Homo sapiens: one gene and its partners. The protein of the gene in region 1 purifies or fractionates together with the protein of each later gene. This does not show direct contact. Each region holds a gene or a part of one and is shown in the gene's direction. Other genes may lie near its edges.

Evidence for each region.
Region 2: the proteins of SLC22A1 (region 1) and ACSL4 purify together in Homo sapiens (affinity purification with mass spectrometry; one large-scale study listed by BioGRID and IntAct). This does not show direct contact.
Region 3: the proteins of SLC22A1 (region 1) and MFGE8 purify together in Homo sapiens (affinity purification with mass spectrometry; one large-scale study listed by BioGRID and IntAct). This does not show direct contact.
Region 4: the proteins of SLC22A1 (region 1) and PROS1 purify together in Homo sapiens (affinity purification with mass spectrometry; one large-scale study listed by BioGRID and IntAct). This does not show direct contact.
Region 5: the proteins of SLC22A1 (region 1) and TUBA8 purify together in Homo sapiens (affinity purification with mass spectrometry; one large-scale study listed by BioGRID and IntAct). This does not show direct contact.
Region 6: the proteins of SLC22A1 (region 1) and GPAT3 purify together in Homo sapiens (affinity purification with mass spectrometry; one large-scale study listed by BioGRID and IntAct). This does not show direct contact.
Region 7: the proteins of SLC22A1 (region 1) and FNDC10 purify together in Homo sapiens (affinity purification with mass spectrometry; one large-scale study listed by BioGRID and IntAct). This does not show direct contact.

The regions. Positions count from the first base shown.
Region 1 is NC_000006.12:160,131,815-160,135,314, forward strand, and holds part of SLC22A1 (solute carrier family 22 member 1), read left to right. Parts: intron 1-417; coding exon 418-572; intron 573-2,142; coding exon 2,143-2,311; intron 2,312-3,500. UniProt on the Homo sapiens protein: Electrogenic voltage-dependent transporter that mediates the transport of a variety of organic cations such as endogenous bioactive amines, cationic drugs and xenobiotics. Functions as a pH- and Na(+)-independent, bidirectional transporter.
Region 2 is NC_000023.11:109,726,758-109,730,257, reverse strand, and holds part of ACSL4 (long-chain-fatty-acid--CoA ligase 4), read left to right. Parts: intron 1-3,500. UniProt on the Homo sapiens protein: Catalyzes the conversion of long-chain fatty acids to their active form acyl-CoA for both synthesis of cellular lipids, and degradation via beta-oxidation. Preferentially activates arachidonate and eicosapentaenoate as substrates.
Region 3 is NC_000015.10:88,906,880-88,910,379, reverse strand, and holds part of MFGE8 (lactadherin isoform a preproprotein), read left to right. Parts: intron 1-456; coding exon 457-588; intron 589-3,003; coding exon 3,004-3,185; intron 3,186-3,500.
Region 4 is NC_000003.12:93,893,897-93,897,396, reverse strand, and holds part of PROS1 (vitamin K-dependent protein S isoform 2 preproprotein), read left to right. Parts: intron 1-705; coding exon 706-821; intron 822-3,500. UniProt on the Homo sapiens protein: Anticoagulant plasma protein; it is a cofactor to activated protein C in the degradation of coagulation factors Va and VIIIa. It helps to prevent coagulation and stimulating fibrinolysis.
Region 5 is NC_000022.11:18,124,309-18,127,808, forward strand, and holds part of TUBA8 (tubulin alpha-8 chain), read left to right. Parts: intron 1-2,045; coding exon 2,046-2,726; intron 2,727-3,500.
Region 6 is NC_000004.12:83,602,108-83,606,375, forward strand, and holds the end of GPAT3 (glycerol-3-phosphate acyltransferase 3), read left to right. Parts: intron 1-2,560; coding exon 2,561-2,660; 3' UTR 2,661-3,768; downstream 3,769-4,268. UniProt on the Homo sapiens protein: Converts glycerol-3-phosphate to 1-acyl-sn-glycerol-3-phosphate (lysophosphatidic acid or LPA) by incorporating an acyl moiety at the sn-1 position of the glycerol backbone.
Region 7 is NC_000001.11:1,597,512-1,601,606, reverse strand, and holds FNDC10 (fibronectin type III domain-containing protein 10 precursor), read left to right. Parts: upstream 1-1,471; 5' UTR 1,472-1,591; coding exon 1,592-2,272; 3' UTR 2,273-3,595; downstream 3,596-4,095.

The DNA.
Region 1 (3,500 bases):
GAGCTGAATATGGCACTGAAAAGCTTCCATGATGGTTGATAAGACTATGGGAGGAAGGAAGCCTGGTTTGGGTGCAGCCTGACCAGTGGCGATAATAATGATGCCATCTGCTAAATATGAAGATAAGGCAAGGGGACAGGCGTGAACTGGAGAGGGTCTGCGGGCACTGCCCGGCTGAGCTGTGATGCTGCTGGGAGCGCTCAGACTCCTCTTCAGACCCGGAAGGGCTGCGGAGCTTGTTGGGACAGATGAGCAGGCTGGGCGGTGCACTGGGCACTGCTGTCCTGATAGACCCTGCAGTCTCCCAGGACAGTGGTGCGGTGGCCTCCGACTGTGACCCTTGGCATCCCACCATGCATGTCTGACCCCAGATTTCAACCTCTCCCACCTGCCCTCCATGTCTCCTTCTCTCTGAAGGTTTGGCCGTAAGCTGTGTCTCCTGGGAACTGTGCTGGTCAACGCGGTGTCGGGCGTGCTCATGGCCTTCTCGCCCAACTACATGTCCATGCTGCTCTTCCGCCTGCTGCAGGGCCTGGTCAGCAAGGGCAACTGGATGGCTGGCTACACCCTAAGTAATTATCATGGGGATGAGGCCAGGTCTCAGGGTAGAATGGGATGGGCCTAACGTGGGTAGGGGGTTGTTTGTGGGGTCAAGGAGCTTGCGGGGCACCAGTTCCTTGTATTTATGTGACTAGGGCAGGACATGGGCTAGAATGGCCTCCTCTCTTTTTGTGTCTGAGACACTTAAATTATCACTTAGATTACTGACCTATTAATCAACTAATCTATTTGGGGAACAAAAAGACCCCATGCTGATGTGCTCACAGCAGTCAGGATGGGGTGCAGAAGAGGAGATAAGTGAGAGAATATTCTAGCATTTTACATAAGAAAGAACCAGCAACTCCTTAAAATAAATACAGCAAACTTGACGGGCTTGAATGGCACTCAAGAATTAGGAAAGAAAACAGGAGCAAATAAAATAAGGATTGTGAAAATCAGGATTTTGAAAAAGTTGAAGTATAAACCAACATGAGGAGTTTTACATATCAGCCTTTTTTTCCCTTTCAAATATTCTAAGGTTAAGAATACAAAACAAAAAACCCTTTCCGGGAGGAATGCAGCCTAAGAGTCATCTGTACTTCCCCAGGCCAGGGCACGGCAGCCAGCAGTGAGGATGAGCCACACTTTTACTCATTTGTGGGGGAGAAAAAAGAAATAGCCTGTCTTTTCATCTTTGAAAACAAGGTGCTATCACTTGGCATTCTGAGAACTCATTCACTAGGGCCAAGAGGATCCACGTTCCCGCCTTGAGAAGCCATGAGCAGCCTGGTGAAGCTGAGCTGGCTCAGCCCCATGCGTGTGGAGCCTGTGACAGCCTCTGCTGCTAGGCACCGTCCCACACATGGTTTGGGGGGTCTGACCCGGGGCCACATCCACGCTCCAACACCACCCGCAGCCCCTCCACCCACGACTCCCCTGACTTCCTTTTCCCCTTTTCATTTTTGTTCCCGTTACACGTATCACGCTCTAACATAGGATTGCATTCTCTTATCTGTGATGTGGAGCGTCTGCCAAATGAGGTCTCCCAGGGCAGGACTCTACCTCCTATGCTTAACGATGTGCCTCAGACACCCCGCACAGTACCAGGTCCCCAGGAGGCACTCAAAGATATTTGCTAAATGAATGAACACCCCTGGGGTCCTGACAAATATTCCAGCTGAGTCTGGAGCTTCTCGAGGAAGGCGTTGGGGAGGAGAGGCCAGTGGACTGAGTCCTGAAGCAGGCAGAGGGGAGTGCAGATGGTAAAGGAGCAGACGCGGAAAGCGACGGTCAGGGAAAAGCCAGAGAGCCAAGCAGCCTGGTGGATCTCCGGGGCCTTGGTTTGATGGGTCCGGGGCCCCGGTTTGATGGGTCCGGGGCCCCAGAGAGAAGGGGAGGCGTGAGCGCGGCTGTGGTTTGCGGGAAGGAGAAATGGGAGACACACAAGAGAGAAGCCTGGGAGCAGGTGAGGCTGGGCAAGGCCGGGTGGGAGCTTCCCGCGGGGAGACAAGCTGGACTGGGGCCCCGAGCTTCTGAACGCACGGCGTCGGGCTCCTGGGCTCCTGCAAGGAACCCGCATAACGTCCACACCTCCTGTTTCAGTCACAGAATTTGTTGGCTCGGGCTCCAGAAGAACGGTGGCGATCATGTACCAGATGGCCTTCACGGTGGGGCTGGTGGCGCTTACCGGGCTGGCCTACGCCCTGCCTCACTGGCGCTGGCTGCAGCTGGCAGTCTCCCTGCCCACCTTCCTCTTCCTGCTCTACTACTGGTGAGGCCCTTCCTCCTGCCTACGGGGAAGGGGCGCCGGCCACCCCTCTGGCTGCGCTTTCTGTCCTCTCGAGGGACCAGTCTCTTGGAGTGGGGGGCGCCTACAGGCCGTCTTCCAAAGGCCATGGTGTCCACATGCATAACGCATGGGGCTGCGCGGAGCCCGGCGCTTCCCACACTCATGACGCATAGGGATGAGCTGGTCCCGGGGTTTCCCACACGCATGACGCATAGGGATGAGCTGGTCCCGGGGTTTCCGACACGCATGACGCATAGGGATGAGCTGGTCCCGGGGTTTCCCACACGCATGACGCATAGGGATGAGCTGGTCCCGGGGTTTCCCACACGCATGATGCATAGGGATGAGGGGAGCCTGGGGCTTCCCACATGCATGATGCATAGGGATGAGCAGAGCCCGGGGTTTCCCACATGCATGATGCATAGGGATGAGCAGAGCCCGGGGTTTCCCACACGCATGATGCATAGGGCTGCACAGAGCCCGGGGTTTCCCACAGGCATGATGCATAGGGCTGCACAGAGCCTGGGGTTTCCCACACGCATATCGCATGGGGCTGCGTGGAGCCAGCGCTTCCCACCGCTTGTACTGTTCAGGTTGTTCTGTTATTACCAGGCGGCCCAGGTTACATGTGGAGCTTTCCTCAGACAAAGCCTCTTTAGATAGGTTCCCCCAGATAAAGGTGGGCCATGCCAAGAGTCGGACAGAAATCCAGGAAAACTCAGGGCCTCAGCATGTGCACTTTCCAGAAACACAAGGCTGAACCTCACTCCCGGGTGAAGGAGGCAGCTTTTTGAGGGTTGCTCAGTGGCCTTGGGAAATCTGTATCAGCGTCCAGTGGTAGGAAAGGCTCCACAGGTGGCAATCCCACTGCAATGGCTACCACTCCCGAGAGTCCCCTAGAGTCCGTCCCAGGGGTGCTGGCATGAAGTCAGATGCTCTGTTATCTTCTTGATCCTCTCCCTCTTCCCCCTCTTCTCTTCCTCTCTGCTGTCATCTCTGCTCTTCTCCCACTTCTTCATTTTTATAGTACTATTGGTATTATTATTAAGACACTGAAATACCTCTCATCTAGCCATAGAGCAGGCATTTGATCTTGATTGAATGAATGAGTGACAGAATGAAGGAACAACAGGCCTGCTCAATGCAACCTTCTCTGGGGACTGTGTACCCT
Region 2 (3,500 bases), on another chromosome or scaffold:
GATAGTTGTAGATTCACATATAGTTGTAAGAAATAATACGCTTTATCTAATTTCCCCCAATAATAGCCTCATGCATAAGTATAGTGTAACATCACAACTACAAAATTGAAATCGATGCAATCCATCAACCTTACTCAGATTTCGTCACCTTTAATGCAGTCATTTGCATGTATGTATTTAGTTCTACATAATGTTATCACGTGTAGATTTATATAAGCACTACCACAGTCAAGATACAGAACAATTGCATCACCACAAGGATCCTTTTTGTTGTCTTTTTATAGATGTAGCCATCTCCCTTCATCCCTGACTCCTGGCAACCACTGATCTGTTTTTCATGTCTATAATTTTGTCATTTCAAAAATGCTTATATAAATGAATCACACAGTATATAACCTTTGGAGACTGACTTTACTTCACTCAGCATAATTCCTTGGAGATTAGTGCAAGGAATATACCTTTTATCAATGGCTTGTTCCTTTCCATTGCTGAGTAGTATTCCATAATATGGATTTACTGCAGTTTGTTTAACCAGTCACCTCTTGAAGGGCATCTGATGTTTCCAGGGTTTTTGTTTGTTTTACTTATTTATTTATTTATTTATTGCCTATTTTGAATAAAGCTCATATGAACAGTTGTCCACAGGATTTTGTGTGAACATAAATTTCTGAAATGCCTGAGAGTGTACTTCTTGGGTGGTATAGCACTTGCATGTTTAGTTTTCTAAGGAACTGCCAAACCATTTTCCAGAGTGGCTGTACCATTTTACATTCCCACCAGGAATGTGTGAATGCTCCTCATCCTTGACAGCATTTGGTGCTGTTACTATTTTTTATTTTAGCCATTCTCATAGGTGTGTAGTAATATATCCTCCTAGTTTTAATTTGCATTTTTCTGATCGCCAATGATGTTGATCATTTTTCCATGTGTTTATTTGCCATTCTCTGTATCTTCAGTGAAATATCAGTTCATGTCTTTTGTCCATTTTCTATTTGGATTTTTTTTTTAACCTGGTGAGTTTTAAGAGTTTTTTATTATTTTTTTGAGACGGAGTCTCGCTCTGTTGCCCAGGCTGGAGTGCAGTGGTGCAATCTCACTGCAAGCTCTGCCTCCCAGATTCACGCCATTCTCCTGCCTCAGCCTCCCAAGTATCTGGGACTACAGGCACCCGCCACCACACCTGGCTAATTTTTTTTTTTTTTTGTATTTTTAGTAGAGACAGGGTTTCACCGTGTTAGCCAGGGTGGTCTCGATCTCCTGACCTCATGATCCACCCGCCTCGGCCTCCCAAAGTGCTGGGATTACAGGCGTGAGCCACCGCCCCTGGCCTTTTTATTCTTAATACTAATCATTTGTCAGGTAGTGGTATGAAAATATGTTCTCCCAGTCTGTAGCTTGTCTTTCCAACCTCTTCACAGGGAATTTCACAGAGCAAAAGGCTTTAATTTGGATGAGGTCCAGTTTATTAATTTTTCCTCTATGGACTGTGCTTTTGGTGTCAAGAAATCTTACAAACTTTTGTTATTTAATTTGATTCCTTTCTGTTCTGTATAACATCCATTATTTCTGTAAGCTATTTGAGCATTTTCTCTTTCAACAATTTTAGAGCTCAAATATATTCTGTGAACAAGTGGCCTTAATGGCTTAGAATGTTAATACATATTCACACATGCTCTCACTATATTAAAATGGCTGCCTTAAAAATATAATGTCTACCTCACCAGGCTGTCAAATGCAACATTAAAATTTGTATTTTAAAATTAAATAGACGCATGATATGCTAAAGAGGTTTTTGGTTTCACTTTCTAAATTAAAAATATTTTGGCAAAACTGTATCATTTTCCATCAAGGATTTTGGTAAGTAATCCAAAAAACAAATTTGTGTTCTTATTTAAATGTACTTTGAAAGTCTACTTCTGCATTTTGAGTAGTGAAGTTATGATTCATGACCATGTATTTAGCAGACTTTTCTACTCACTGTTGATTATGAGAATAATGAATAAAAGATCATTGTATTTGACTGTCTAGACTGCATTTTTCCTTTTATAGCAGCTACATGACACTCATTGTAACTGTCTTTTGAAATAAATATTAGGTTCAAGGTGATGTTTACAGTTTTATATTTTGAAAAATGTATGTGCTCATATGAGAAGGAATTATAGGAAAAGGTTAGTGATTAATTTTGAGAATATTCATTTCTGTAAGGCAGTACTGAAATTATTTGTCCCTTCAGTGTTACTATATTTACTCAAATATGTGTGCAGTGAGGGAAGTAGATTGTTATTTGAAAAAGATAAAACATTGGTATAAGGCAGGGGCTGGCAAAATACTGCCTGTGGCCAAATCCTGCCCACCACCGGTTTTTGTAAATAAACTTCTCTTGGAATATAGCCACATCCATTAATTTATGTGTTTTCTGGCCGCATTCACAATACAACATCAGAGCTGAAACAGAGCCCTTATGTCCCGTGAAGCCAATTTTCTCTCTGGACCTTTACAGAAAAAGTGCTGACCCCAGAGATAAGGTAACCTTATAAATTGTTGATTACACACACACACACACACACACACACACACACACACACACACACACACACACAATTTAACAAACTACCCTGACTTTTTATACCTTCTGGTTACATTTCCAGGTGATATTGTGATTCAGGAGAGTGCATTCATTTTCTTTACTAAGTCTCCAAAGCACTGTGGTCTAGGAGCAGCAATAAGGAATGCATAGAGAGTTGAGACGGTTGATTTTGTTGTTAAGTGTGGGTTATTTAAATGTGAATGTGAATTTACATGTGTGGCAATCAGTAAGCTGCAGATAGACTTCTATGCAGTCTATGATGTCTTTTGGAGACCCTGTTGTGAGCTGTAGCGGTAATAAGAGAGCCAGGCATGGTAGTGTTTTTGCTCCTGAAACTGCTATGTGATCTTTAAGTACATAGTAGTAAGAGCCTATCAAACTGAGCTTAGACTGTTGGTTTATTATTTTGTTTGTACAACTTCCTTTTTTATAACGAAGCAGTTGACACTTTAGTTCTTTTAAGTGTTCTAAGTGTAATGTTGAAAATGGAAATTGAGTAAAGACAGGTGGCTGTGTATTTAGAAAGTAATAAGTCTCCATCTCTCATCATACACAAAAATAACTTAAGAATATATTTTAAAAATCTAAGTATATATTTTAAAAAATCTTCTGGAAAGTGTAAGACATCATAACCCAGTTAAAAAGACAAGTGATGGCCGGGCACTGCAGCTCACGCCTATAATCCCAGCACTTTGGGAGGCCAAGGTGGGAAGATTGCTTGAGCCCAGGAGTTTGAGACCAGCCTGGACAACATAGTGAGACCCTGTCTCTAAAAAAAAAACAAAAAAAACAAAACAACAACAACAACAACAAAAAACAACAAAAAAAGCCAGGCATGGTGGCATGTGCCTGTAGTCTTTGCTACTCCAGAGGCTGAAGTGGGAGGATCCCTTGAGCCTGGGAGGTCGAGGCT
Region 3 (3,500 bases), on another chromosome or scaffold:
GAATTGGTGGGCGGAACCTGCTCAATGGGCCAGAACAATGCTTCCTTCCACTGCCCCTGCCTGAAAGTCCTCATGGGCCTCCTTTGCAATCAAACTGCTGCCAAGAGACCTGCCCTGGACCTTGCCTGCCTCTCCAGACCCCAGCTGCCAGCTCTTCCACCAGTGGGCAGTGGTCCCCAGCACCACTGCCATTGTCAGCCAGCACTTTTCTGGACACTCCCAGGCCACTTGGAAAGCTGGGCGCTTCCCTTATGTGGGCCGATTCGCCTACACATGGACTTCCTTGGCTCTAGGCGGACTCAGGCTCCATCCAGCACACGGGGGAAGAGGGAGAGGAAGAGATAATGGGCGAGTTTGAGTGGAGGGTCCTTTTGGGCTGGACCCATCTGCTACTTCTCACCTGTGTCCCCAGCTCCTTCCTGATCATCTGCTCATCTTACCTGTCTCTGTCCCCAGATATCTGTTCCAAAAACCCCTGCCACAACGGTGGTTTATGCGAGGAGATTTCCCAAGAAGTGCGAGGAGATGTCTTCCCCTCGTACACCTGCACGTGCCTTAAGGGCTACGCGGGCAACCACTGTGAGACGAGTGAGTATGTGGGGGTGCTTGTTGCCTGTTTCTAGCAGTAGACCCTGAGCCACAGCCCTGGTGGCATAGGCCATATGCTGGCCTTATTCTCTGCCTGTGATCCCCACCCCAGTGGAGGTGTCAAGGCCTCCTCTGGGGAGACTCAGAGAGAGAGACAGAGCCTCAGTTAGACCGAGGGGGGAAAAGGGTCCTGTTGTTTCTTCCTTCTTTCTGCCTGGCCCTCTTTCCTGAGACTGCCGGCCAGGCCTGATGCTGATGCAGAGGAGTGAGGGGTTGTGGTCACCCTGGAGGTCACGGGAGTGCTGTTTCTTGAGTCACCATGAGCCAGACACACAGCATTAGGGTTAAGTTGCAAGGATTTTTCTACCTAAGAGGGGAAAACAAACACATTCTTGGTCTTTTGAGGCCCAGGAACTCAGTAAATCAGCCTTGGTTTCAGAGTCTGACAGTTCCTGGCCCAAGTTTGACCTGCAGCCTCATCGCAGAGCTCGGGGAGAAGGGAGAGGCCTGGGCCAGCTGAACCATCCCCACGCGGTCAGGTGGTCAGAGGCCTTGCATGCCCAGAGGGGCTGTCCGCGTGTGACCTGCCTGGTTATCCACTCGGCCACAGAATGGCCCTAGGTGGGGTGGCAACAGCAGTTCCCCTGCTGTCCTCCCTCCAGGCCCAGCTGGAGTCCCTCCCACTTAGTGCTCCCACCCCACTAGGACTCCTCATGGGGCAGGCGGGTTGCCCACATGTGGGCCCAGGGATGGGTGGAGCGGGGGGTCCTAGGTTTCTGAATCCAGCAGGTCAATCGCTGAGCATCTTGGGTAGGGGACAGGGGACATCTTGCCCTCCTCAGGGAGATGTGGGGATGGGTTCTGAGGTTTGCTGGCCTCCAGAAGGAGGGGGCGGGGGGCTTGAGCCAGCTGGGTGGCAGCAGGGGCCCTGGGAGAGAGCAGGTCAAGTGAGTAGGATGCCTTTTACCTCCCAAGTGGCCCTGGGGCCTGTGCCTTGGACCCTGCCCTGAGGCCAGATGTGTTTGAGATCCTGGTGGAAGGGTGTGTGTATGGTTTGGCGGACGGGTTGCTAAGGCAATCAGAGCCCTGGGTAGGGCCAGGTGGAGCCACTAACAAGTATCCTGGGAGCTGAGGTAACAGTGAGTGTGCCTGAGTGGGAATTACCCACCTTGACTTCTAGCTTCTGGGCCTGGGATCTTCCCCAGGCTGGATATGGCTGCACCCAGGAAGAAGGCAGGGGTGACCACACAGCGGAGGAAGCCCTCAGAGGGACCTTCGCAGCTCTTCCTTGCCTTTTACGTGGTATGTTTCCTTGGAGCCAACAAGGACCCTGCGGGCCCAAAGAATGCACACTGGACTCCTTCAGGGTGTGAGCGTGGTGGGGTATGGGGATAGTCTTGGAGGCAGACTGGGGTCAAATCTCAGCTCAGCCACTGGCCGAGCTCTGGTCTTGAGGCTCTGGCCTCACTTTGCGCGTTCCCCTCCCTGCCAGAGTGCGCTAACACTGAGCTCGTCCGCGCCTGTGATGTTGGAGGAAGACTAGATCTGTCTGTGGGTTCTCTGCTTGGCAGCTGGAAGGCCCAGGCACACGCTGGGGGGATCCCCAGGTGATGAGAGAAGCTTGGCCTGTAGGTGGGCCTGGTAGCTGTCCTGGGTTCCTGGGACCACACTGCTGGAGTGATGGTGAGGGGGGTGGGGCCTTGGCCACGGGCATGTTCACAGATGGCTGGGTGAGGGCCCACAGGTGGAAGGCGTAAAGAGGGAAAGCAGAATGGCATTTGTGCCCCACCCAGAGAACTCCTGCCAGTGGGATTCTAGAAAACTCCAGGCAGATTAGCTTCTTTCTTTGTGTACAGTGCTGGTACTGTTCACTGCTATCCGAGGTAGCCCTTCTCCCAAAGCCACCCTCCTGAGGAAGCCAGGGGCTGGGCTGAGGATGGCGTCCCTTCCTGGTGGGGGGAGGGGACACTGAGGAAGAGGGGGTCACACCGGTATTCTGTGCCACCAGTCTAACCCCTGCACCAGACTGATTGCTGCCAGATGCCCTATATGAACGAGGCCACCTCCCACAGCCTGGCGGGGGGGACTCTACTTTCCATGAGTGCCAATCATGGCTGTCCCCACAGTGCTACCCTGGCTGGGATCCTCTGGCAGCCCTGGGTCCCAGCCTCCCGTGACTCTGCCCACCCCCCTCATCCTCACCACCCCTGGCCACATACCTTTTCTTGGCACCTCGTCCTGGGCACTGCCTTCATTGTCCCTTTGTGGTCTTTGTTCTGAGAGAGGCTCTGAGGTTCTCCCTGGCCCTGGGGCTTAGGCAGAGGTCATACAGTCTTATTTTCTTGTCCGCTGGGTCCCAGCTGGGCCCGGGAACCTGCTGGGGTAGCCACCTGACTGCCACCTCCCTTCCCTCAGAATGTGTCGAGCCACTGGGCCTGGAGAATGGGAACATTGCCAACTCACAGATCGCCGCCTCGTCTGTGCGTGTGACCTTCTTGGGTTTGCAGCATTGGGTCCCGGAGCTGGCCCGCCTGAACCGCGCAGGCATGGTCAATGCCTGGACACCCAGCAGCAATGACGATAACCCCTGGATCCAGGTATGCCTGGGGATGGCCCTGGGGCGGGGCAATGGAGAGAAGGCTCGATGAATGTTTCTGCATTTGGGGGTTACCCCAGGAGGGTTCATCACTGGGGTTCAGGTGGCAAGGTAACAGGTTCCCATGGATGAAGTATCTGTAAGTGGATGGCATCCCTGGAGGAACCTGGTATGGGGTCAAGGTGAGGGGGGAGGAGGCCCCAGGCTGTGGAGGAGCTGTTGGTGCTGGATGAGGCCTCTGGAGGCCTGGGCAGAAGAAGAAAGCCCTTTGTGCGGGCAGTGTGCTCAGCTACCCCTCCTCTGTTTTGCTTGAGTT
Region 4 (3,500 bases), on another chromosome or scaffold:
TGCTATGTACGTAATTCTCCTCAAAATATCCTCATATGTGTTCAATAATTTGTATGTTAAAAGCTTTTCATTTTAATGTTTGTTTTCACTCGTAGAAAAAAAATACTTGATACCATATGTGATGACTTTAAATAATGTTCTTGTAAATTCCTTGGAGACTATGAGATCTGAATTTATATTTATTTCCTTCATGTTTTCCAGTATTCCCTTTACTATCTAGATAGCACATTCTTGCTCAGAAAACTTTTGCTTAATAAATGAATGAGTGAATGAATGAGGTGCTGTTTATTGGTACATTAATTCTTACACCTATTTCTGACTTCAAATAAAAATAATTTTCAGACATAATTCATGGGAGATAATATACCTGACTGTTAATTAAAGAAATATATATTGGTTCTTGAAGAAAGAGTTTGTGTTTAGGACGAAAATTTGCAAAGGAAGTATTAAAGACAAAGATCGAAAGCCATGCACATTGAACGAGGCTTTAAAACACATGTATTCTTGGAGGTTATACTGATAGATAGACTATACAAGGAAATGGAAGATATGTATTTATTATTACCAAAAATATTCTTAATTATTTTAGTGTATTACAGATGATACATTAGTAACCAAACAAAAATGCATGACCTCACACAAACATTAAGCAATAACCTGTGCATTTTGATTTTCTTGTTGTTTATTTGGTTTCTTTTATTCCAGGTTGTTTCAGTGTGCCTTCCCTTGAACCTTGACACAAAGTATGAATTACTTTACTTGGCGGAGCAGTTTGCAGGGGTTGTTTTATATTTAAAATTTCGTTTGCCAGAAATCAGCAGGTGAGGAACCAATACCAATGATAATTTCTAGAGGTTAAGCAGATAAGGGCAGAAGAAAAGTGGCCGAAAAGGTTTGAAGTGTGTGAAATTGTATTACCTATCAGATAATGTAGTCATATTACCAATCAGATGACTTGGGGAAACCTAAAGTTAATTTACTCCTTCACACATGTAATTTTCATCCTAAAACCTTTTTGAGTCATTCTAGGCTGACTTTCCCCAATGAACATTTTACATTATTCCATATTATTCCTTTTGTAGAAAATGCATATTTACTAAGAAGCTGGGAAAGTAGATTTAATGTACTTGTGAAATTTCCATTATTCTTTACACATGTTATGAAAACCAGGTAATAAAAAATACTCAGTATTGCTTTTAGAATATCATTATATTCAAAATTATTAAGGAAAAAATTTAAACTTGCTTAAGTGGCATTTTAAAGACATATATTACATAATTTTAGTTGGCTGTCTAAATACTTTATCCATTATTATCGTACTTAGATTGAGTTCAGAAATGAAGTAAATGCTTATGTTTTTTAGTCATGATTCCACTTATTTTTATAGCAATGTTTATGATCCAATTTTTATTTTATTATATTTATTTATTTTTGAGACAGAGTCTTGCTTTGTTCCCCAGGCTGGAGTGCAGTGGCGCAATCTCGGCTCACTGCAACCTTCGCCTCCCAGGTCAAGCAATTCTCCTGCTTCAGCCTTCTGAGTAGCTAGGACTACAGGTGTGAGCTGCCACACCCAGCTAATTTTTGTATTTTTAGTAGAGACAGAGTTTTACCACGTTGCCCAGGGTTGTCTCAAACTCCTGACCTCAGGTGATCACCTCAGGTGATCTGCCATAATTGTACTTCAGTTATCAGATTTTCTCAGAAGCATACATTGCTGGAAGTAGAAGAAAGAAATTGGATTTTTTTTGGAATAATGAGAAGGCAAAATACTTGAGACAGATTATACAGTTCAAATTTTAAAATATTTTAATTAAATAAGCATGTATGTTTAGAACTTGATGTTAGATACATGAATGATTATTCATTAAATAATTCAACTAAATTCATAGACGTTATTAAAAACATTGAAAATTATTCTAAGATCAATAACTTACATAAATACTTAAGTAACAGTGCTCCTTCCACACTTTATTTCTGCCAATATGTGGTTTTTTCCTTTAACATCACAGAGCAACTAATATCTTCTAATGATAGAGATTGGAGAAAACTCTTCCCTGCTATGAGAATAATAATGAGAGAAAAATATTAGTTCTAGTAAATAACACTTTTAGGAATACAATTGATCCTCCAAATCCTTGAGTTCCTCATCTGTGGATTTAACCAACCTCGGGTAGATAATATTCAGAAAAAAACACAATGACAATACAATACAAAATAATACAAATGAGACACAATACAGTATGACAACTATTTACATACATTTGCATTGTATTGAGTATTATACATAATGTAGAGACGACTTAAAGTACGTGAGAGGATGTGCATAGGTTATATGCAAATACTATGCCATTCTATATAAGGGACTTGAGCATCTGTGGATATTGATACCATCCAGAGGTCCTGGAGCCAATCTCCAGGAGTTTGTTCATTTCTCACTGACGATTCATAGTAGTTTGATCTCTAACATGGGATCAGAATTGGACAAATTATTTTTTCCAGAATTTATTATTTATTTATTTTAAACTTTTCATTGAAATATAAAGTATGTACCGATATGTACACATTAGATTAAATGTATAGCTTGATGAATTTTTATAAACTGCCCCTTGTGTGATCAACACAAAGAATAGCTAGTGCTTTTATTTATTTTTGCAAATTTCTTGACGTCTGTTGCTCATGATCAAATACTTTCCCTCCGTAAATGTCAACAAATTCATTCTATTTTCCTGTTTACCATGCTTGTGAAAAAGAATGAATTGTTCCCCATTGTAATGAATCAATATGCTGCTGATATATTCCAGAAACAAAATATGCAGAACATGACCCTTTGAAACTATGATTTCAGCCTGATTTTACAAAGAAAAGGAAATTATCTCCATAATAGAATCAACTGCTGGAAGATCCTGAGCATACACAGATTTGGATTTTGGCAAGATAATATTGCTTCACATCAGCAAAATGCTCAGATAATTATGAAAGAGCATAGAAGTCCTTATTCCAAGCAAAATTGTTCTTTTTTTCATAATCTGAGTTCAGTAAATTCCTACTACATTGTTATCCATCCAACATACTTTACTCCACATTTTACCTCTTTTTAAATATTTCTTTGGAATTCTAAAGATGAAAACATTCATTTTGTCACCTTTTCTTTGTTCCATTTGAGGGAGATACGTGCCCCATTGCAAATGGTGCCTCTATTACTATTACTATTTTACTATATTGCGGTAAGAGTGTGGGATTCTGTCCTGCCTAATATAGCAATTATCTGAAGTCCAGACTCTTTAACTTAAATTGCCTTTATTTTAAGTTAGGTGACTAATAGTTATACACCTATTGTTCCTTTTCCCTGTTTGTCTTTCGTCAATCATGTGGATTTGCTAGTCCCTTGGAAACTTCAATGCTGATTCTCATTGAAGTGTTTTAAGGATACTGAATCAACACATGTTATTTTAAGTCCTGCATCCTAAGACTTTTCTCCCCTGTAATAGCTACATATA
Region 5 (3,500 bases), on another chromosome or scaffold:
GATCAGGAGGGCAGGGGACGGGTGGGTCAGGCTGGAGTGGACAGGCTTGGCCCCATGCCTCTTTGATCAGGCTAGGGAGAGGCATCTGACCCCTGGCTATAGGATGGAGCTCCTAAGGTTTGGGAATTTCTGCTTAAATTCTGTAAGAAGCATGCACAGGGGTGATGCCCCTTCCTCTGTGTTGGCATCATAGACTGTGTTCCAGGCTGAGGCCCTACTCATACTCATTGATACTCTCTGTTAGTATCTGGGGAAGGTTCCGGGTATAAGGCAGGATGAGGTCTCTGCTGGTCGGAAACACAGGTTAACAAAGCATTTAACTTGGAAGAGGAGAGGAAGAGATTGTTGATACATTTGGGCACTTACAAGTGCCATTACAGATGTTAAGCACATTCCTTCATTTAATCCTTAATAATTAGACTTAGGAGGTGTCCTTCCTGTGCTTTACAGATGAAGAAATTGAGGGCCAGGGTGGTTCAATATCTTAGCCTGGGTCACACAGCTAAAAAGTGGCAGAGCTGGGGTTTGAACTCAGTTGGACTACAAAGCTCTTGAGTTGTAGGTTGTGTCACTTTATTTATTTAAGCTTCCATTTGCTTATCTGTATAATGGAAAAGCTTGGACCTGATCACATGTTCTTTCCCTGGGAGGTAAGGGTGCCAAACTTTTGCATATATTCACTTTTTCTGTTTAGAGGAGGGCTTGTCAGGGTCATTGGCCTCAAAGCTGTCTGTGGTCCCCAAAAGTTCAAATCACACCCAGTGGGAAAATCCTGTGATTCTATGAATTCTCTGGTGAGAGCTGACATCCGTGCTTACAACGTATCAGGCCCTTGCTCAGCATGTTATGCTATTTTATTTAATTGTCACAATAACCTTATGAGGATTTTCTATTGTCCCCATTTTCACTAAGAAGGAACAGAAGTGGCCAGGCATGGTGGCGCATGCCTGTAATCCCAGCACTTTGGGAGGCTGAGGGGGGTGGATCACGGGGTCAAGAGATTGAGATCATCCTGGCCAACATGTTAAAACCCCATCTTTACTAAAAATACAAAAAATTAGCTGGGCATGGTAGCATGCGCCTGTAGTCCCAGCTACTCAGGAGGCTGTGGCAGGAGAATTGCTTGAACCCAGAAGGCGGAGTTTGCAGTGAACCAAGATTGCACCACTGCACTCCAGCCTGGCGACAGAGCGAGACTCTGTCTCAAAAAAAAAAAAAAAAAAAAAGGAACAGAAGTTTGGAGAGGTTCAGTAACTTGCTCAAGTTCTTACAACCAAGAAATGGCAAAGTTGATATTAGAACTCAGGCTTTCTGGCTCCATGTACCTTTCTGAAATTGGTGCCCTGAGTCACCTTCCAAGGTTGGGTTGAAGTGTGTCGGCAGCAGTTCCCACAAAATCAAATGACAAGAGCAGGGAAAGTGGGCAAGGAGTTGGGGCCCTCAAAGGGCAAAGTCACCATCCACTGTGGTTCTGAAACTCTCATTCCCTGTTCAACCAAGTTACTGGGCTGAAACCTTCATGTACCTAGAGGCGTGTGCCCCTGCAGCTTGTCATCCTATTAAAAAAAATAGAGACAGAGACTTGCTCTGTCATCCAAGCCAGAGTGCAGTGGTGTGATCATAGATTTCTGCAGCCATGAGCTCCTGGGCTCAAGTGATCCTCCCACCTCAGCATCCCAAGTAACTGGGACTACAGGTGTGCATCACCACGCCCAGTTAACTTTTAAAATTTTTTGTAGATGCGAGGTCTCACTATGTTGCCCATGCTGGTTGTGAACTCCTGGCCTCAATGGATCCTCCTGCCTCAGCTTCCCAAACTGCTGGGATTACAGGCATTGAGTCACTGTGCCTGGCCCCATCCCATATTTTAGCCACTCCTCCAAAGATCAATACAACTCCTTTTGTTTCCTTACTTCTTCAAAGCTGTTTTGATTTCATCCACAAAAAAATATGAGGCAGACAGAGTGGGCGGTCTGGCTTTTTTACTGTGGGGTGTTCTCGGAAACTTGTCTTCATGATTTCTTCTCATGTCCTGCTCTCCCTAGACAGATGCTTGCTCTGGCCTGCAGGGCTTCCTGATTTTCCACAGTTTTGGTGGGGGCACTGGCTCCGGCTTCACTTCTCTGCTGATGGAACGCCTCTCCCTGGATTATGGCAAGAAATCCAAGCTGGAGTTTGCCATCTACCCAGCCCCCCAGGTCTCTACTGCAGTGGTGGAGCCCTACAACTCCATCCTGACCACCCACACCACACTGGAACATTCAGATTGTGCTTTCATGGTGGACAACGAAGCCATCTATGACATCTGCCGCAGGAACCTTGACATTGAGCGCCCTACCTATACCAACCTCAACCGCCTCATCAGTCAGATTGTGTCCTCAATCACTGCTTCTCTCCGCTTTGACGGGGCCCTCAATGTGGACCTCACTGAGTTCCAGACCAACCTGGTGCCCTACCCCCGCATCCACTTCCCGCTGGTCACCTACGCGCCCATCATCTCTGCCGAGAAAGCCTATCACGAACAGCTCTCTGTGGCCGAGATAACCAGCTCCTGCTTTGAGCCCAACAGCCAGATGGTGAAGTGCGACCCGAGACATGGCAAGTACATGGCCTGCTGCATGCTCTACCGGGGCGACGTGGTGCCCAAGGATGTGAATGTCGCTATTGCTGCCATCAAGACCAAGAGGACCATCCAGTTTGTAGACTGGTGTCCCACAGGCTTCAAGGTGAGAGCTGATGACTTAGGAAGGGGAGAGAGGACTAGAGAAGCAGAGGGAGGTGACCAAGGATATGCAATTCCATGGGCGCTTCAGGCTTTATGTGATGATAAGGGGAGGGGGACTTCAACCAAATGTAACATGAATGGAATTCAGCTTTGGTTGAGACACAAGTGCTGTCAAAGTTTTGTCTGTTTAGGCCATTTTAGAAAAGTTTGGTGCTATTTTAAATTGATTAATTGGTTAATCACCTTTGGTTTTGTTTACTGAGCAACAAGTAATGATTTGGTATTGGCCCAAATCTACTCACCTGAAGTACAGTGCTTTTGGTGTTCATGATTTGGTTCAATTTGCCTAACGTTAGTTTTGTTTTTTTTTTTTTTTTTGAGACGGAGTCTCACTCTGTCACCCAGGCTGGAGTGCAGTGGCACCATCTGGGCTCACTGCAAGCTCCACCTCTCAGGTTCACGCCATTCTCCTGCCTCAGCCTCCCAAGTAGCTGGGACTACAGGCGCCCGCCGCCACGCCCAGCTAATTTTTTGTATGTTTAGTAGAGATGGGGTTTCACCGTGTTAGCCAGGATGGTCTCGATCTCCTGACCTCGTGATCCGCCCGCCTTGGCCTCCCAAAGTGCTGGGATTACAGGCGTGAGCCACTGTGCCCGGACTTTTTTTTTTTTTTTTTTTTTGTGAAACGGAGTGTCGCTCTGTCACCAAGGCTGGAGTGCAGTGGCGCGATCTAGGCTCACTGCAAGCTCCACCTCCTGGGTTCACGCCATTCTCC
Region 6 (4,268 bases), on another chromosome or scaffold:
CATACGTGCAACTGGGTTCCTTTTCCTTATTTAAAACTCTTTACTCACTCTTTATCTTACCTGACACTCAGCCCTCCTGCTTCTATCCTGAAGTCAGTGTCTGTAGTCTCAGACACAGGAAGGGAAGAAAGCCTTGAGAGACAAGAACAACCTAGGGGAGTCAGCCAAGTACAGACTCTCCATCAGAGTGGCTGAACTAAATCCATCAAAAATGATCCTCAGAATTGTCCAGTGTCCTTTTTTCAGGCCATATGCAATTGTATAATAAAATTACTTTTAATTACCTAGCCTCTTAAAAAAAAGAAAGTGGCCTCATTGCCTTTCTAGATTTATTTGTCATGTACCTATTGGTTATGAATTAACATATCTAGATTGTTTTTTCATAGATTGAGTGAAAATATAATTTTATGATCTTAAACTGGCTTTTATATATGGCTGCTCCCTCTCTTAAGAACTAAGACCTGCTGCCATTGCAAAGGGGAATTGGATAAAATTTTGAAGTCTCTAAGGGGTGGCAAATCACAGTTTAAGTGCTTAGAGCAGCATGAGGTTTACTGGGTGCTTGGGAAGGAGAATTGTACAAAATGATGTCAGATTGCTCAAGACTTACATTTTTGCCTGTTTTGGGCTTGGATCTTGTGAAAGGAGAAAGGCCTTTCTTATTTCTTTAGTTTCCTTAGTTCTCACTATTCAGAATTCAGGTAAGTGCTGTTAATAGAAGAAGCTCATTTGGATAAAAGAGGCTTATGTGGACAATTCTGTGGACCTAACAACAATTTATAATCTTGTTTCATGAAAACCTCCCACAACTGACCCACTGGATGATTTGTGGATCACAGTCTGTTTTTAAGTTGAGGACTTATTGCTGTGTCTTAGATTTGAGTCTAGAAGCCAGAACATTGCATTTGTCTCAAGCCGGTGTCTCTGTGGAGGTCAAGTTCTGTCCACATGGCATTGAGTTCACTGGCTAACCTACGATCATTCACCATCATCAGAAAGCATTTGGTAAACATGCATGCTTAACTGGGTTAAAATTAAACAGTCAGAGTATAAAGTAAGCAAGTTCTCAGCCCATGCTCTCCTAGCAGTTAAAATCTAAAACTTTAGATTAGGAGCCAGATAGTGACCTATGATAGTCCAAACTACTCCCAGCAACTCCAGTTTGTTGTTTCTTTATGTGTAGTCCAAAGAAGGAAAAGCATGCAGAGTTCTTATACCCAGGCAGGCACCCTGGAGAGAGTTCAAAGATTTACAGGCTCTGAATGAAGGAATGCTGCTTACATAGGCACTTCTGGTTGAATGCAACTTATGATTTTGTTATTTTATTCGGAATCTGTTTTGGAATATAAATGATTATAAATGCTGGAAATATAGTGCTTTGAATGAAAATACAACTTGTTAGACCGGGCACGGTGGCTCACGCCTGTAATCCCAGCACTTTGGGAGGCTGAGGCAGGCAGATCACCTGGGGTTGGGAGTTCGAGACCAGCCTGGCAAACATGGAAAAACCCTGTCTCTATTAAAAATACAAAATTAGCCGGGCCTGTTGGTGCATGCCTGTAATCCCAGCTACTCAGGAGGCTGAGACAGGAGAATCACTTGAACTCGGGAAGTGGAGGTTGCGGTGAGCCAAGATTGTGCCATTGCACTCCAGCCTGGACAACAAGAGCAAAACTCTGTCTCAAAAAAAAAAAAAAAAAAAAAAGAAAATATAACTTGTTAAACATAGATAGGGTTATATTTGAACAATGATTTATCTTTTTTGAATAATCATTTATCTTTAAGAAATTTACCCACACATATACAGTACCCTTACCATTTCTTCTGTGTATATTTTAAATTTTCCTGTGGTTTTCTAGTAAGACATAGGTAGACGAAAAACCAGTATTTTGTTTTCCTTAAGGAATAATATAGAGAAATAATCCTAGTTTTAATAATCCTTGTTTCAATCCAGTTTTTGTTTGTTTGTTTGTTTGTTTTTGAGACGAAGTTTTGCTCTTGTTGCCCAGGCTGGAGTGCAATGGCGTGATCTCGGCTCACTGCAACCTCCACCTCCCGGGTTCAAGCGATTCTCCTGCCTCAGCCTTCCAAGTAGCTGGGATTATAGGCATACACCACCATGCCCAGCTAATTTTGTATTTTTAGTAGAGACAGGGTTTCACTATGTTGGCCAGGCTGGTCTCGAACTCCTGATCTCAGGTGATCCACCCACCTTGGCCTCCCAAAGTGCTGGGATTACAGATGTGAGCCACTGTGCCTGGCCAATCCAAATATTTAATACACCACCCCTTAACTTCTAAAGAAACTGAGTTGGGGATATTGTTACTTATTTTAACCAAACATCAGAGAGATTGTTCCTTCCTCAAAGTAATGTGTATTTGGCAAGTGGTAGGGCAGAAACTGAAACCTGGGTCTTCCTGTTTCCAAATCCAGTGTTCTTTCCCTTATTTCATCCCAGCTGCCTAAGCGTCATGGTATCATGCAGCATGTAATTATTAAGTTAACTCTTTTAAATCACCGCTGTAAAGTATCTTTTATGTATTTGTCTTTCTGTTTGCAGGGATGGAGGACTAAAGAGAGCAAAGGTGAAGGACATCTTTAAGGAAGAGCAGCAGAAAAATTACAGCAAGATGATTGTGGGCAATGGATCTCTCAGCTAAGAGGACGGATGACAGCCTTTAGATCTAGAACTAGCCCTTAGAAATGGAATGGCTTTTTTTGTTTTGTTTTGTTTTATTGTTTTGTTTTTATTATTGTTAATCTTTTCTACAGAATGATTGTCTCTACCTCTTTATGCCAGAGGCAGAACCTACAGGTGCCCTTTTTGGCTTTTGTTGTTGTTGTAACATTAGCCCCATGGATTGTAAGGTGGTTTACTGAGTTAAAACAGATTCTGCTTTTGTAAAATGATGGCATCACTGTGGACTGAATGAAATATTTGTATAGAAAAAAGTGCTTGAAAAGTGTGTTTGGAACTCATCGATAGGGTAATTCTCCAAAAATGCCCAAACTCTTTTTCTGTAATTAGCCTTGCCACTTTCTTCAGTCACTTAAATGGTGAGATTACACATCAGTGCAAGATGACCATTATGGTTATGGTCTACTGCAAGGTTGAAAGGAAAAATGGAGGATTGTATTTAGGAAAAGGGACAACTTTGTGGCCACCTGCTCTGAAAGTCAAAAGGAAATGTAAATTAGTGTCATTAGTGTGTTGGAAGAGAAATACTATTCAGTAAGCTTCGCCAAAGAAAAGTGAGTCAAAGTTAATGTGTGTGCGCATTTATATGTAGGCAGCTCGTAGACCACATTTTAACCAGCAACTGGTAACAAAGAGCTTAGTTTTCCTTGTTTGAATGCTGTAGATCTGTACCTAGTACCCCTCCCATCTACTGATTTGTTTGTTTTTGTAACCAAACACATTTTCAGATAGAAGGAGCCTTAAAAAAAAAAAATCACATTGAGTAACTTCAGTATGAATGAATGAGAGTGTGTGGAGCTACCCCTCACCCTCCACCCCTTTGTGCTTTTTATTCCCGAATTTTCCCAGTCTCTTAAACAGAAAAATGACTGATATAATTATCTTTTGGAAACTGAGCCTTAATTTTTTTTAGAGGGGGAAATAAGTTTTCCCCAACTCACACAGCATAAGCAATGTTTGACAGCAATATAATGCCGTTGTAAACTACTGAGAGTATTGTATCTGTTCTGGTAACCATGTACAGAATGTGAAACTGTCTTATGAATATAAATAAATTCTATATTTCTAAATGTGTGTTGCATTATTCCCCCTTCCCTTCCCCCCTTTTCTGGTTTTGAGTAAGTTAAATTCTTTCCTATTACAAACAAGGGTTGTTTGTTTTTCATTTCAGTGACATAGTTAGATTTTATTGGACTGGAACAAATGGGAAACAAGAACATGAGCCACTGATTCTCCCCCTCCCCTCCCGCCGCTTAAATCTTTTTTTCAGTCTAGTCATTTGGACTCTGGCCCTGTGAACTCCACCTTGAGCAATGTCACAGACTACAGTTATTTTGCAGGTGAATTAAGGCAATTATATCTAACTATCTAGGTAGGCCTGGCATAGCACTATCAGTATATACTCTTCTTATCTATCTAGCTAGTTGGATTTCATCCCAAAAGAAAACTTGCAAATAGGTTACTCTCATGGCCATCCACCTCTCTGTTCTCACTCTCCCCACTTTCCCTTTGTTGTTTGGTGAAATTTTGCCCCACAAACTCTATTAGGAGTGGTCTTGACTGAAAATTA
Region 7 (4,095 bases), on another chromosome or scaffold:
ACGCTGGGGCAAGAGTCAGAGCCCAGGGTTTGCCCTTCCTAAGCAGAGGTGGGAGCTGGGGGCAGGGGGCAGGGAGCGCCTCTCCCAAGGTCTCTGCCCCCAACCTCTCTGCGCCAGGTGCAGAGGCCTCAGCAGACCCTGCCAGGGGCCCAACAGGCTGGTGTAGGGGGTCAGGGCCCTCCATGCCGGGGACGGAGGTGCACCGTGACCACAGTTGGTGGGGGCCTGACCGCTGGGCCGGGGCTCTGGCAGAGCCCCTGAGATCCTGTGGGGTCCTGACCACTGCACTGGGTTTTTCAAGATGACCAGGAATTCGTGAGGCTGGGTGGTGACTCCGTGGGGGGGCGGAGACATGGCCATCCAGAGGTCGGGGACCAAGGACACCGTGAGCAGAATAGCCAGTCTCTCCTCACTCTGCCCCCAGGCAAGGAGAGCACAGGAAGGGGTTGCAGGAACTCATGGTCCAGTTGCCAGAGAGCCCCCCACAACCCCTGCAGACCCAGAGCTGGCTCAGCGGAGGTGCCAGCCCAGCCTTAGGTGCGAGGCTTGGCCTCCTTTCCAGTTAGGGCAGGCCGGCCAGGCCCGGCCACGTCTGCATACACAGTCCCTGGCTGTAGTCCTGGCCCTGGAGGGGTGTCCTGGTTGCTGGGTGATCTATGCAGGGACGGGAATGAGGGGCAGGGGTCTTGGGGTGTGTCCCGCCTTCCCCTCCCCCGTCGGTGCCACCTACTCAGTGCACCGGGTGGGCTTTTTGGATTCCCTTTGTCCAGCCCTGACCTCCCCACAGCCATCGGGAGGGCCCCCCAGAGCGCATCTGGAGGAGGAGGGGGCGCAATGAGGCAGGGAAGGTCGGCGCCCTGCAGCTGCCTCCGCTGCGTGTGGAGCGAAGGGAGTTCTCACCTTGCGAAGTCTCATCTGTCAGGCTTTCCTCCGGGTGGGCGCTGTCCGTCCTGAAAGGAACAGAAGCCGCGGGGTGAAGGAAAGTCTCCGTGCTGGTCCCCACCCCATCGGTATGGGCAGGTACCCTGACTGCGCGGGTCCCCGCCGCGGGTCCAGGGCGGCCAGCGTTGGGGTGCAAGGCCCGGGGTCCTGCGCGTGCCAGACCGCTGCGCCCCCATCGTAAAGCACGAAGTCCCCGACTGGTGTGGCCACGGGCGGTCGCGGAGCTGCACGACGCGAAACGAAGCCGGCCACAGCCCGTGAGTTTCGGCTCGGAAAAGCCGCAGGGGTCCAAGGTGCGCTCACTAGGCGGGAAGCCGGGAGAGCGGCGGCCCTGCCCGCACCCCGCGCCCCTGCCCGCACCCCAGCCCCACCGGCACTCCGGCCGCCTCGCTGCGTCCCCCTCCTCCCCCCCACCCCCGATCCCCCGCACCCGTAGGCCGCGGCCCGGCGAGGGTTAAGGGGGGCGGGGCGAGGGGCGGCCCCGCCTCCGCCGCCGCGCCGGGTCCGAGCGCGCACGGGGCGCGGGGGCGGGTCGGAGCGGGCGGCGGCGGAGGGCGCGGCGCGCCGGGGATCGCGGGGAGCGGGCAGCGGGGACGGCGGCGGCGCGGCCCGCGTGACCCAGCGCCGCGCCCCGTGGCCCCGCCGCAGGATGCGCGCCCCGCCGCTGCTGCTGCTGCTGGCCGCCTGCGCGCCGCCGCCCTGCGCCGCGGCCGCCCCGACGCCGCCGGGCTGGGAGCCGACCCCCGACGCGCCCTGGTGCCCCTACAAGGTGCTGCCCGAGGGCCCCGAGGCGGGCGGCGGGCGCCTGTGCTTCCGCAGCCCCGCGCGCGGCTTCCGCTGCCAGGCTCCGGGCTGCGTGCTGCACGCCCCGGCCGGCCGCTCCCTGCGCGCCAGCGTCCTGCGCAACCGCAGCGTCCTCCTGCAGTGGCGCCTGGCCCCGGCCGCCGCGCGCCGCGTGCGCGCCTTCGCGCTCAACTGCTCGTGGCGCGGCGCCTACACGCGCTTCCCGTGCGAGCGCGTGCTCCTCGGGGCCTCCTGCCGCGACTACCTGCTGCCCGACGTGCACGACAGCGTCCTCTACCGCCTGTGCCTGCAGCCGCTGCCGCTGCGCGCTGGGCCCGCCGCCGCCGCGCCAGAGACCCCCGAGCCGGCCGAGTGCGTGGAGTTCACCGCCGAGCCGGCCGGCATGCAGGACATCGTGGTGGCCATGACGGCGGTGGGCGGCTCCATCTGCGTCATGCTGGTGGTCATCTGCCTGCTGGTGGCCTACATCACCGAGAACCTCATGCGCCCGGCCCTCGCGCGCCCCGGCCTGCGCAGACACCCCTGAAGCGCGAGGCCGCCCGCCCATCTTTGCGCCACCTGCCTGAGGGCGCCTGAGCTCCCAGGTCCTCCGCCCGCTCTCCTCTCCTCATTCCTGCTGCCTCCTTAAGATCCCCGCGGAGGAGGACCTGCCGGCGACGGCTCCGGCACTTTGGCATCATCACACGCCCTTTCCAGCCGGGCGTCAGACTCCCAGACTCTGGCCCCGGATTGGCCCCTGGGCTTGCGCTGCTGTGCCAGCCGCATCCAGGGCTCTCCCCGCTCTCCGCAGGCCTTTATAGAGGCGGCCAGGGCATGGAGCCCCTTCCAGCAAGAGCCATGGGCACTCCGGCTCACCCCGCACCTCCATCCTGTGCCGAATTGTCCCAGACAGACCGTCGCCATTGCTCGGTCACTGTGCTTTGCAGGCCTGGGGCGCAGCTCTCCAAGCCTGTCCTGCCCCGCCCCACCCCACTGGGCTTAGGTTAGCTTCGTGCCTTAGTATCTCGGGCCCACTGCAGGAGCCAACACCCTCTGCTGTCCAGGGGGGGTCTGTGGCCCTAAGATTGGCCGGCCTCTCCATGCATCTGGCCAGCGTCCCCTTGGAGACACCTTCACCCTCAAGCGCTGCAGAAGCATGAGGTGAGGGCCTGCAGCGCTCTGTACCGTTTAGGGTGTTGGACCAGCCGGGAGCCTGGCAGGCCTGGCCCAGCGGCCAGGGTGAGTGTTCTCAGACCCCGGGCAGCTGGTGGTTCTCCAGGGCCAGGTACCCCTTTTGTGTGTGCGACCTCTGACTAGGTCCCTGTGGGAATGGGGCAGATGGCGGCCATCACCACTGGGTCCCAGGGCAGAAGCTTAGATACCGGCCTTGAGCAGCCCGACCTTCCACCGCTGCCTGGATCCCAAGCCTCAGCCGACCCAGGGGACCTTGGTGGCAACGGTGTGACTGACAGCACCACCCCTAGCCTTTGCATGCCCAGGGGTCGAGAGCCAGTATCCGGCCCAGACAATGCCACCCGCCATGGAAGAAAAGCTGACCCTGCCCACCTGCTGCAGACCCGGGCCCCGGGCCGAGGTTGCTTTCTGTGACGACCGCCTGGTGACGCTGGACACCAGGAGGGTTATGGCACTGCCCTCCCCTCCTGGAGCCCCTGGCACTGACCACCTGGACTTGACCTGACTCCTGGTCACTGGCCAAACACCCATCCTCACCCCAGCCACCCCGGGCCCTGGCTGGTGCCGTGTGACACCTGTAGCCCACCTGTGTGTCTTTGCTCCGCCCACCCCTGCGTGGCGCCGGTCAGGCGCAAACCTGGCGCCAGTGTCTAAATGTCCATCATTCTCAGACCAACAGAGCTGTCTGTGTGTTATTTGGGAGGTGGGAGGGAAGGAAAAGGTGGATTCCCCTTCTCCCCACATCCCCTGGGACCCTTGGGTATGGGCTGGTGTCTGGCCCCAAACCCTCTCCTGGCCTGGGTGGCATTGGCCCAGGCAGCGTGTGCGGCACGCTGCCTTGCAGTTCCTAGCAGGACAGGCAGGGTGCCCCCTGTTTGTCTCTGCACCTTCTTGTCCTGGGCCAGCTGTGTTGGCGGGGGAAGGGGAAGACGGTACCTGCCGTGCTTAGAAATAGCCCATTCCCACGGCGACACACTTGAGCTGTGACAGTGGCAATTAGGCTGCTCCGGAGGGGCTCACCTCCCTGCCTGGGCCTCCCTGGCAGAGCTAGAGCTGGGGTGGGGACGGTGGGCAGAGGACAGCCTGGGGCTCCTGTGTGTATCCTGTGCTGAATGCCACCCTCCCTCCCCCACAGGCTCTTCCAGGCTGTCCTTGAGGCACTTGCAGCCAGGGGTG